3 linked regions of the Homo sapiens genome follow. The protein of the gene in region 1 purifies or fractionates together with the protein of each later gene. This does not show direct contact. Each region holds a gene or a part of one and is shown in the gene's direction. Other genes may lie near its edges. The genes, in order: EOLA1, KCTD3 and HSPG2.

What was found.
Region 2: the proteins of EOLA1 (region 1) and KCTD3 purify together in Homo sapiens (co-immunoprecipitation; one large-scale study listed by IntAct). This does not show direct contact.
Region 3: the proteins of EOLA1 (region 1) and HSPG2 purify together in Homo sapiens (co-immunoprecipitation; one large-scale study listed by IntAct). This does not show direct contact.

The regions. Positions count from the first base shown.
Region 1 is NC_000023.11:149,543,868-149,546,430, forward strand, and holds part of EOLA1 (protein EOLA1), read left to right. Parts: exon of another isoform or gene 1-1,224; coding exon of another isoform or gene 1,225-1,261; intron 1,262-1,500; coding exon of another isoform or gene 1,501-1,633; intron 1,634-1,734; coding exon of another isoform or gene 1,735-1,763; coding exon 1,764-2,016; intron 2,017-2,563. UniProt on the Homo sapiens protein: May play a role in cell protection during the inflammatory response. In epithelial cells, negatively regulates IL6 production and apoptosis through the regulation of MT2A expression.
Region 2 is NC_000001.11:215,577,156-215,580,808, forward strand, and holds part of KCTD3 (BTB/POZ domain-containing protein KCTD3), read left to right. Parts: intron 1-514; coding exon 515-573; intron 574-773; exon of another isoform or gene 774-835; coding exon of another isoform or gene 836-845; coding exon 846-926; intron 927-1,844; coding exon 1,845-1,982; intron 1,983-2,753; coding exon 2,754-2,844; intron 2,845-3,653. UniProt on the Homo sapiens protein: Accessory subunit of potassium/sodium hyperpolarization-activated cyclic nucleotide-gated channel 3 (HCN3) up-regulating its cell-surface expression and current density without affecting its voltage dependence and kinetics.
Region 3 is NC_000001.11:21,850,311-21,853,963, reverse strand, and holds part of HSPG2 (basement membrane-specific heparan sulfate proteoglycan core protein isoform b precursor), read left to right. Parts: intron 1-893; coding exon 894-1,045; intron 1,046-1,131; coding exon 1,132-1,264; intron 1,265-1,730; coding exon 1,731-1,876; intron 1,877-2,037; coding exon 2,038-2,173; intron 2,174-2,266; coding exon 2,267-2,418; intron 2,419-3,465; coding exon 3,466-3,601; intron 3,602-3,653. UniProt on the Homo sapiens protein: Integral component of basement membranes. Component of the glomerular basement membrane (GBM), responsible for the fixed negative electrostatic membrane charge, and which provides a barrier which is both size- and charge-selective.

The DNA.
Region 1 (2,563 bases):
TGTGCCCAGCCATGCTGGGGCTGCTGAGCATGGACTAAGATGAAGACAGGACTGGCATGAGGCCGGCCATGGGTGCTTGTGGGGATAGGTCAGTCAGTGGAGTGGGTGGTGGGGGGGGTGGGGAATAAAGGGAGAAAGGTGGGGGTGGGGGCAGAAGGTTCAGAGAGGAAGTAGAGACTGCGCATGTAGACAGCTCTTCTGAGGTCTCGGCTGTTCAGGGTTGTAGAGAAGGGAGGCAGAGTGGGAGGCGCGCGTGTGCTCAGAGTAGGGATGCTGAGCGAGCATAGATGGTGGCTGGTGGCACCCAGGGCCCGGAGTGAGCCAGAGGAGCAGGGTCCAGAGCACAGCAGGCAACCGGCTCAGCTGAGGCAGCTCACCCCAGAGGCGGGAGAAAAGCAGGAGATCTGGAGCTCAGAAGGCTGCAGTGCAGACTGGGAAAGGAGTGAATACCAGGCAGCTTTGGCCCTATCAGGGCTTTGTCTCATGAGGGTGGGTATATTTTCTTAAAATCATAGAGCGTACTAGAGGTTGCGTTTATGTGTTGAAAGGAAGGACAGAGAGAGGAGTAGGGGCAGCTCAAGGGTGGAGTTCAGGGCCGGGGGCGGGGCCACGGGCCTGAGGGGTGAGGGCAGCCACTATTTCTGACTGTTCTATTAGGTGCCACGTACTGGGCTGGGTGCTCTTGGTGCCTTATCTCCCTTCCTCACAGCCATGTGGAAACTGAGGCATCTCAAGAGTCTATGACTGGGCTGAGGTTCTGGTTTCGAGCCCAGGGTTCCTTCCAAGGCACAGGGCCGTCCTCCATGCAAGAGGAGGGGACCCTCTCCCAAGCCAGACACGCAGGAGGCTGGGCAAGAGTTGTGGGAAGTCAGAGCCCGTGTGACTGTGGGCTGGTGCCTCATTCTCCTCAGCCATAGAGTGGGCCTCACAGTACCACTGACCCTGCTGGGTTACTTGAAGATTCAATTTGATGATCCGAGGATCATGCCATCCCAGAGGCTGGCACGTGGAAGGCATGTGTGTGGGGTTGCTAGTTGTTCTGATTATCATTCTTCTTTTCTCAGCTCAGATTGGGACAGGGGCATCTGCTGACAGTGGAGAGCAGTGGTAGGGGAAGGGGCTTGAGGAAGGTGGCACCCAGAGGGGTGGAGAGGAGATGTCTGACTGAGGGCCATCTGAGGTCACGGTGCATCCTGAGGACAGAGCTGAGATTGGATATCAACGATGTGGGCTCAGCAGCCCTGGAGTAGGAGCTGGGAAGGTCAGTGCCTTGGTGGCGGCAGGGCCAGGGCACTGAGAGTATTGGCAGGGCACAGCAGGGGAAAGGGAAGAGAAGCAGAGGGTGGGACTCTCCCTCTGTGCTGGAAGAGGGCTAACACCAGCCCGGACTCTCCACTCTGGCTAGGCCAAGGGGGCCCTCTGTCCTCTGTGTTGCCCTAGGGCTCGGTGACCTCTGTCATAGCACTGACCACATGGTATCCTGCCTGTGCCTTCCTCTAGCTGTCCCCGCCCTACTCCGGACCGCCCCAAAGACTCCATGGGATGGACCTGAGTCAGCCGAATCCCAGCCCCTTCCCTTGGGCCTGCTGTGGTGCTGGACATCAGTGACAGACGGAAGCAGGAGACCATCAAGGTCAGTGCGATTTAGGCCACCTGAGAGACACGGGGGGAAGGTCAGGCCACTGCCCATGAGCTTGGAGGGCTGGCGTGTGATGCGCTTCTGTGCTTCCGCAGGCTACGGGAGGCCCGGGGCGCTTGCGAAGATGAAGTTTGGCTGCCTCTCCTTCCGGCAGCCTTATGCTGGCTTTGTCTTAAATGGAATCAAGACTGTGGAGACGCGCTGGCGTCCCCTGCTGAGCAGCCAGCGGAACTGTACCATCGCCGTCCACATTGCTCACAGGGACTGGGAAGGCGATGCCTGGCGGGAGCTGCTGGTGGAGAGACTCGGGATGACTCCTGCTCAGATTCAGGCCTTGCTCAGGAAAGGGGAAAAGTTTGGTCGAGGAGTGATAGCGGGTAAGTGACAATGTACCAAATGCGCAGACAACGCCTAGGGCTGCTGCCCAAGATCTTGCTTGGGAATTTGGGGGCTTCTCTTGTCATCTGAACTGATTGGCGTGTATAACACAGTTTCCTTTGGCAACACACCTTCAAAGGGGCGGCAAGGACCTTGGGCTGGGGGTTGGTATGGCTGGCTTCCACGAGTTCTGGTAAATCATTTCTCCACTCTGGGCCTCAGTTCCTGTTTCTGATCTCAGTGAGAAGCCTGGTCAGGGCCATGTGCACATGGTGTTTGTGGTGTTTGGCTGTGTGTATTTGCACATACATGTGTGAGTGCACATGTGTGGCAGAGACCATGAAAAGCAGCCCAGCCCGCCGAATGGGTCAGGTGGCCTCTAGAGTTGGGCTGCCCGCCTGGCTTCATGAACCTGCCCCAGCCCCACCACTCACAGCACCCTGGGAAAGTCCCCTAACCTCTAGGTGACTGAGGCCCGACATCAGCATCTGTCCCCTGGTGACCTGCTCAGGCATCACCTGTAGCTTCCCAGGCAGTGGCTGGTGC
Region 2 (3,653 bases), on another chromosome or scaffold:
TTGTTCAACAAATATTTATTACATAACTATTTTATACAAGCACTATGCTAGGCACTGTGAGGTATACAAACATAGATCAGAAATAGATCATGCTCGCAGGGAATTTATAGTGTAATTGGGGAGATTAAGATAGATATGTATAGAAATAATTGCGATAAAAAGTTAAAAGCAACTAATGCCATAAAAGAATGGTTTCCATTCTATCGTTTGCCTTCTAGACAATTTATTTGTACTAGCCTGATAGAGCCCTAATCTCTCCTTTAGTGACCCAATTCATATATATGTATATATATGAATGGTTTTTAAGTAGATAACAGAATATTTTTGTTCACATGCAGTTTTTATTTACACTTTTTAATGATTAAGGATAATAGAAATAAAGAGTATTAGGAGGAAAATAATTTTTAAAGCCTTATGACTATATACATGAAGAACCTAGAATTTTTTCCTTTCATGTCAGATGATAATACAGGTTTCCAGTGTTAGAGAATTTACATCATTTGTTTCTTTGTAGGGGAGTGAGTATTAATGTTCTCAGGCATGAAGCAGAATTTTACGGGATCACTCCATTAGGTATGTGCTCTTTTAATATTTGGTGTTTATGATTTGACTCATGTATGAAAGTTGCCCTAAATGAAATGTGTTTATATCAGGTCCTAATTTTTGATGGACTTGTTCAGTGCTTAGTTTTTGTGGATTTTCATAGTAAAAAGATGTTGTCAACTCTGACTTAATTAAAATTTTCCTTTTCTTTCCTTATCCTCTTGAACTAGAGAAAATAAAAATGGAGTACTGTTTTTCTGTTTGCATGTACTCTTGACAAGTTTGCTTTGAAATGTTTTTAGTAAGAAGGCTTCTCTTATGTGAAGAATTGGAGCGTTCCTCTTGTGGCAGTGTCCTTTTTCATGGTTACTTGCCCCCACCAGGTATTTTCACTTTATTAAATCTTTTAAAAAATTCCTTGTATCATTAAGCAAGTACAAGCATATGAATAGGAAAAACTGCTCCTTGATTATTGAGTTTTTTGTCTATAAATCTATTAGAAATGGTAAGAACTTTTGATTTTTATAGAAATTAAGTCACATTATATATTGGAGCAGGGGTTTGGCAAACTTTTTCTGTAAAGAGCCAGATAGATTTTGTGAGCCAGAGGATCTCTGTGACAGCCACTTAACTCCGCTGTGTATACTACATGAAGACTAGGTTTAACTGTAACCACTACAACTTTATTTACATAAATAGCATTGATTGGGCTGGATTTTCCATGGCCCATAGTTTGCTGACCCATATGTTAGAGCACTGGTTGTCAAACTGCTTTTTTGCAAAATTTAAGGAATTCTGCAGAGATAAGTCAGTGTCACCTCAGCCCCACTTTAGTTAGAAGAGCCTGATTTTACCTGTGTTATAATGGACTTCTGAGCAAGATTTCATTTTAAAAAATGTTCCCCTGTCAAATAAAAAATGTTTGAAAGTATGGGGAATTTCAGTTCTAAAGCAGTTAAATTATTACATAGTACCTAACACATAATACCTGTACCATAATTGTAAAGAGTGGCTGGCAGACTGAATTAATTACCCATTAATTCAGTAACCTAAAGCTTATTTATTGTAAACAGTATGACAATACCAGAAATCTGTTGACAGAATTTTGTCTTTGTCTTTGTTTTTTTCATTTTCATTTTATTTTTTAATTGTAATTAAATTATTTGTAATAATTTGCTATATTGGAAGATGTATTTCGGCTTTAATGAAATTCACATTTTTGTTTCTTTGTCACAATGTGATATTTTTAATTTTTGAAAGGTGAACTTAGGAATGTATTTGTTTTCTTCTTCTCTTTATAGGTATTCCTAGTCGTAAAATAAACAACACAGTCAGATCTGCTGATTCTAGGAATGGTCTAAATTCTACAGAAGGTGAAGCCCGGGGAAATGGTACACAGCCTGTTCTCTCTGGAACGGGAGAAGAAACTGTTAGGCTAGGTAAGCAAAGATTACAGAAATAGAAAAAGAAAAATACGTATGTTTTTAGTGCTGGGTGATATTGAGTAATTACTTTTAAAGATTTTTGCCTCATCTCCTTTTTTATCCAGATTTATCATTTATATCTTGGAAAGGTCTCATTTAACACTTAATTTTTATTTAAAATGTTGTGTAATCTTCTATCTTCTCTGAATCTTTAGAACAGGGTTGCCAAAATTTATCTGGTAAGAGCCAGAGATTAAATATTTTAGGCTTTGTGGGCCACGTGTTCTCTGTCAGACCTACTCAACTTTGCCATTGTAGCATGAACACATAATGGACAATATGTAACAAGTAAGCATGGCTGGGTTCTAACAAAACTATTTTTTTTTTTTTTTTTGAGACGGAGTCTCGCTCTGTCGCTCAGGCTGGAGTGCAGTGGTGCCATCTTGGCTCACTGCAAGCTCTGCCTCCTGGGTTTACGCCATTCTCCTGCCTCAGCCTCCGGAGTAGCTGGGACTACAGGCGGCCGCCACCATGCCAGACTAATTTTTTGTATTTTTAATAGAGATGAGGTTTCACCGTGTTAGCCAGTATGGTCTCGATCCCCTGACCTCATGATCCGCCCGCCTCGGCCTCCCAAAGTGCTGGGATTACAGGTGTGAGCCACTGTGCCCGGCTCTTAACAAAACTATTAACCAAAACAGGCAGAAGGCTGAAACTGGCCTGGTGGCTGTAATTTGCCAACCCCCGGTTTAGAATGTAAAATATTTCTTTTTCCAAAATCAACAGGATTTCCTGTGGATCCACGAAAGGTGCTAATAGTAGCTGGCCATCACAACTGGATTGTAGCTGCATATGCCCATTTTGCTGTGTGTTACAGGTAGTGTATAATTAATAATGCTTTGCTTTTACAGGTGGCAGTTTGAAAATTAATTGTGATTTTATATTTTTAGATTGAAAAGCTATTTTTTTTTAGTCATCAAGTTTTTTCCCTGCATATTTTACCCATGTCTGTATCATCTGATTAAGATTTAGTGTACTTTTATTTTCACAGCTAATTTGGTAAATGTTTCTGATAGCCTTTATCTGTTGTAAACATTTAGCAGACAAGTGTGAATTGTCATGTAACTGAGATATCCTGATGTATTATTTATTGCTTATACCTAGCTTCTGAGACTGTAGTATATAATGATGTTAGACAGGATTATTAATGTGAGCTCCCTGATGGTCTATCTCTAATGATTCAGTGTTTTGTATTCTATAGCAAGGGAGAGTACATTGGTCATAAATACCACATTTTGGGAAGTGAGGTAGTAAAGCAGGACAGTTATTGCACAAGTGGTATAGTTTAATATCTAATATGTGAAACTTACAAAGAAGTAGTTTGGTTTTACTAATGCTTACATTCTCAGAGCCTGAGAAGCAATGAAGAATAGTGTAGACCGGTGATTTTTTTTTTTTTAATTGGGAAAGTGATAGGACTCTTAGTTCAAAATCACTGTACTCATTGAGAAATGTTGATGACAGAGAATGGTGTAGAAGCACAAAAGTGGTTGGAATATACTAGCTTAGATTATTATTTCATTTAATTGCAGAAAAATCAAAGATACATAAACTATTTGTTTATCACTGTTGAGTTCGGTTAAGAAAAATAGTCACAATAAGCTGAAAAATATCTAAAATGTCTTC
Region 3 (3,653 bases), on another chromosome or scaffold:
CAGAATGTCCAGGTTGAATACTAAGCTGGGAGTCGGCTGACCTGGTTCAAATCCCAGATCTGCCCCTTAGCAACCTTGAACTAGCTTTTAACTTTTGGGGCCTCAGATTCATCTATGAAATGGAGCAGTACTGCCCACCTGCTTGGTCATGGTGTGGTTTTTTTATTATTTTATTTTATTTTATTTTATTTTATTTTATTTTATTTTATTTTTTTGAGAGAGAGTCTCGCTCTGTCACCCAGGCTGGAGTGCAGTGGCGCGTGATCTCGGCTCACTGCAAGCTCCGCCTTCCGGGTTCACACCATTCTCCTGCCTCAGCCTTCTGAGTAGCTAGGACTACAGGCACACCCGCCACCAGGCCGGCTAATTTTTTGTATTTTTTTTAGTAGAGACGGGGTTTCACCGTGTTAGCCAGGATGGTCTCGATCTCCTGACCTCGTGATCCGACCGTCTCAGCCTCCCAAAGTGCTGGGATTATAGGCATGAGCCACCGCGCCTGGCCAGTCATGGTGTGGTTTAAATGAGACAGTGTCTATGGAAAGTACTTGTGAGCACACGGAAGACGTCCTGTAGAAGGGAGGTGTCTCACTGTCATCCGCATCCTTGGGCGCAGCCTGGGTAGTAAAGCTTGCTGGTTCCCTATGGGCCAGAGGAGCTCATCATCAAGAAGTCATGGGTGGGTCAATGGGCCTCCAGCTTGTGGTTAGAGGCTGGGGAGGGAAGAAGCCATATTCGGCTGGCCATGTGGAGGCAGAAGGGTGTGGCCCTAGTCCCAGAAAGGCCACCTGTCGGCCGTCCCCACTAGGGCCTGGTCACAGCCCAGAGCCTTCTGCCCCAGGGCTACAGGTTACAGCCCAAGAGTTCAGGCCTCTGAGCAGCCGCTCTGTGTCCAGTGCCCGGCAGCACCCGGCCCATCCGCATCGAGCCCTCCTCCTCACACGTGGCGGAAGGGCAGACCCTGGATCTGAACTGCGTGGTGCCCGGGCAGGCCCACGCCCAGGTCACGTGGCACAAGCGTGGGGGCAGCCTCCCTGCCCGGCACCAGGTATGGCAGCCCCCCGGGACCACCTTGCTGGAGGGGCTGGATGGGACTGTTCCAGCCCCCTCCCAACCCACCCCATTTGCACACAGACCCACGGCTCGCTGCTGCGGCTGCACCAGGTGACCCCGGCCGACTCAGGCGAGTATGTGTGCCATGTGGTGGGCACCTCCGGCCCCCTAGAGGCCTCAGTCCTGGTCACCATCGAAGCCTCTGTCATCCCTGGTGAGTGACTCCCAGTGACATGGAAAGCTGGAGGAGGCAGAGAGGCCTCCGGGGTGGTGAGATCCAAGGGACCCCTCTTGCTGACAGGGCAGAAGGCCCACACCGGAGCTGGCTGCAGGGCCCTGCCCAGGCCGACTCCACCTGTCAGAGTAACCACCGCCTTCCCGTCACACTTTGCTTTGGCCACATGACTCCTCAGGCGTCCCCTCCCACCTCCTCTTCCTCTCTCCAACTCATCTCTGCCCTCATCTCTCTCACTTCCTCACTCCCCTCTGCAAGGCGTGGCCCATGCCCTGGTCCTCCCATCAGGGTTGCTGAGCTGAGGGCATCAAGTCCAGGCCCCCAGATGCCTGAAAAGCTGGATCTGGCCTTGAAACCCTGGGCTGAGCTAGCTGCAGGGTGGGCAACCCCTGCCCTCTCATCTCAGGAGCATCTACAACTCTCACTCCCATCCCCACTGCTGCAGGACCCATCCCACCTGTCAGGATCGAGTCTTCATCCTCCACAGTGGCCGAGGGCCAGACCCTGGATCTGAGCTGCGTGGTGGCAGGGCAGGCCCACGCCCAGGTCACATGGTACAAGCGTGGGGGCAGCCTCCCTGCCCGGCACCAGGTACAGGGCACCAAGAATGTGGGACGGGGCCATGGACAGTGGGTTGCAGGATCCTGGCCCCTAGGCTGAGGGGCTGGCACTTCCTAGATCGGGGGGACAGCGGTGGGGCATTTGCTGGCCTCCGGGAAGCCCCCCTCACACCTCTGCCCACGGCTGCCCAGGTTCGTGGCTCCCGCCTGTACATCTTCCAGGCCTCACCTGCCGATGCGGGACAGTACGTCTGCCGGGCCAGCAACGGCATGGAGGCCTCCATCACGGTCACAGTAACTGGGACCCAGGGGGCCAACTTAGCCTACCGTGAGTGGGGCCACCAGGCTGGGCTGGGATGCAGAGAACAGGCTGGAGTGGCTTCAGAGAACAGGAGTGACCGGTGACCATCTTATCCCTCAGCTGCCGGCAGCACCCAGCCCATCCGCATCGAGCCCTCCTCCTCGCAAGTGGCGGAAGGGCAGACCCTGGATCTGAACTGCGTGGTGCCCGGGCAGTCCCATGCCCAGGTCACGTGGCACAAGCGTGGGGGCAGCCTCCCTGTCCGGCACCAGGTATGGGACTGGAGGACAGACAGGCCAAGAAGAGGAAGCGGGTCCCTGGGTGGCGGAGGTTATTGGGGGAGGGCTAGAGGCTCCCCTGAGATCAGGAAGCCCTGGACCCCATTGCACAGATGTATAGTGCAGTGGTTAGAAACCAGAATCTAGGACTGACTAACCTGGGTGTGAATTCTGGCTCCACCACTTAGCTTGTGACCTCGGACAAGTTACTTAACCTCTCTGTGCTATAGTTTCAGGGCCTATAAAATGGTAACAATGGTACGTACCAGCCGGGCACGGTGGCTTACGCCTGTAATCCCAGCACTTTGGGAGGCCGAGGTGGGCGAATCGCCTGAGGTCGGGAGTTCGAGACCAGCCTGGCCAGTATGGTGAAACCCCATCTCTATTAAAAATATAAAAATTAGCCGGGCATAGTGGCAGGCGCCTGTAATCCCAGCTACTCGGGAAGCTGAGGCAGGAGAATCGCTTGAACCCAGGAGGCGGAGGCTGCAGTGAGCCAAGATCACGCCATTGCACTCCAGCCTGGGCAACAGAGCGAGACTCAGTCTCAAAAAAAAAAAAAAAAGTACCTCACAGAATTATCTTAAAGATTAAAATATATGCAAAATCCTCAGAGCTTAGGCTCACAGAAAGTACTCTAAGCTGTTAATATTTTACTATAATGCCATTAGCTATTGTTGTTACCATATTTTGTAGAATTTAGGATACCACTGATTGCGAGATCCGCTATGATTTTATGTACCTCTAAGAAAAAGCTTCTATTTGTAAGGTTATTCATTGTAGATGCATCTTGATTTTGGAGACATCGAAATGTGTGTCTAGAATTGATGGGATGTGGTGTGAGTGTGTACCCAGCTCACTGGGGCTCCTCTGGTCTACCACCCCGCTGCTGGACAAGAGTCCCCCTTCCCCATGTGAAGGACAGGGAAACTGATCCAGAGCTGATGGCCAGGCCTTGGGGGTCAGAGTGAGGCAGGGTTGCAGGTTATAGGAACAGGGGTCTCCTGAGGGCTCCCTCTGACTCACCCCCATTCTGGCCAGACCCACGGCTCCCTGCTGAGACTCTACCAAGCGTCCCCCGCCGACTCGGGCGAGTACGTGTGCCGAGTGTTGGGCAGCTCCGTGCCTCTAGAGGCCTCTGTCCTGGTCACCATTGAGCCTGCGGGCTCAGTGCCTGGTGAGTAGCTCTCAGGGAGGGCAGGGCTGGGGACCCAGGGTGGGAGGCCCCC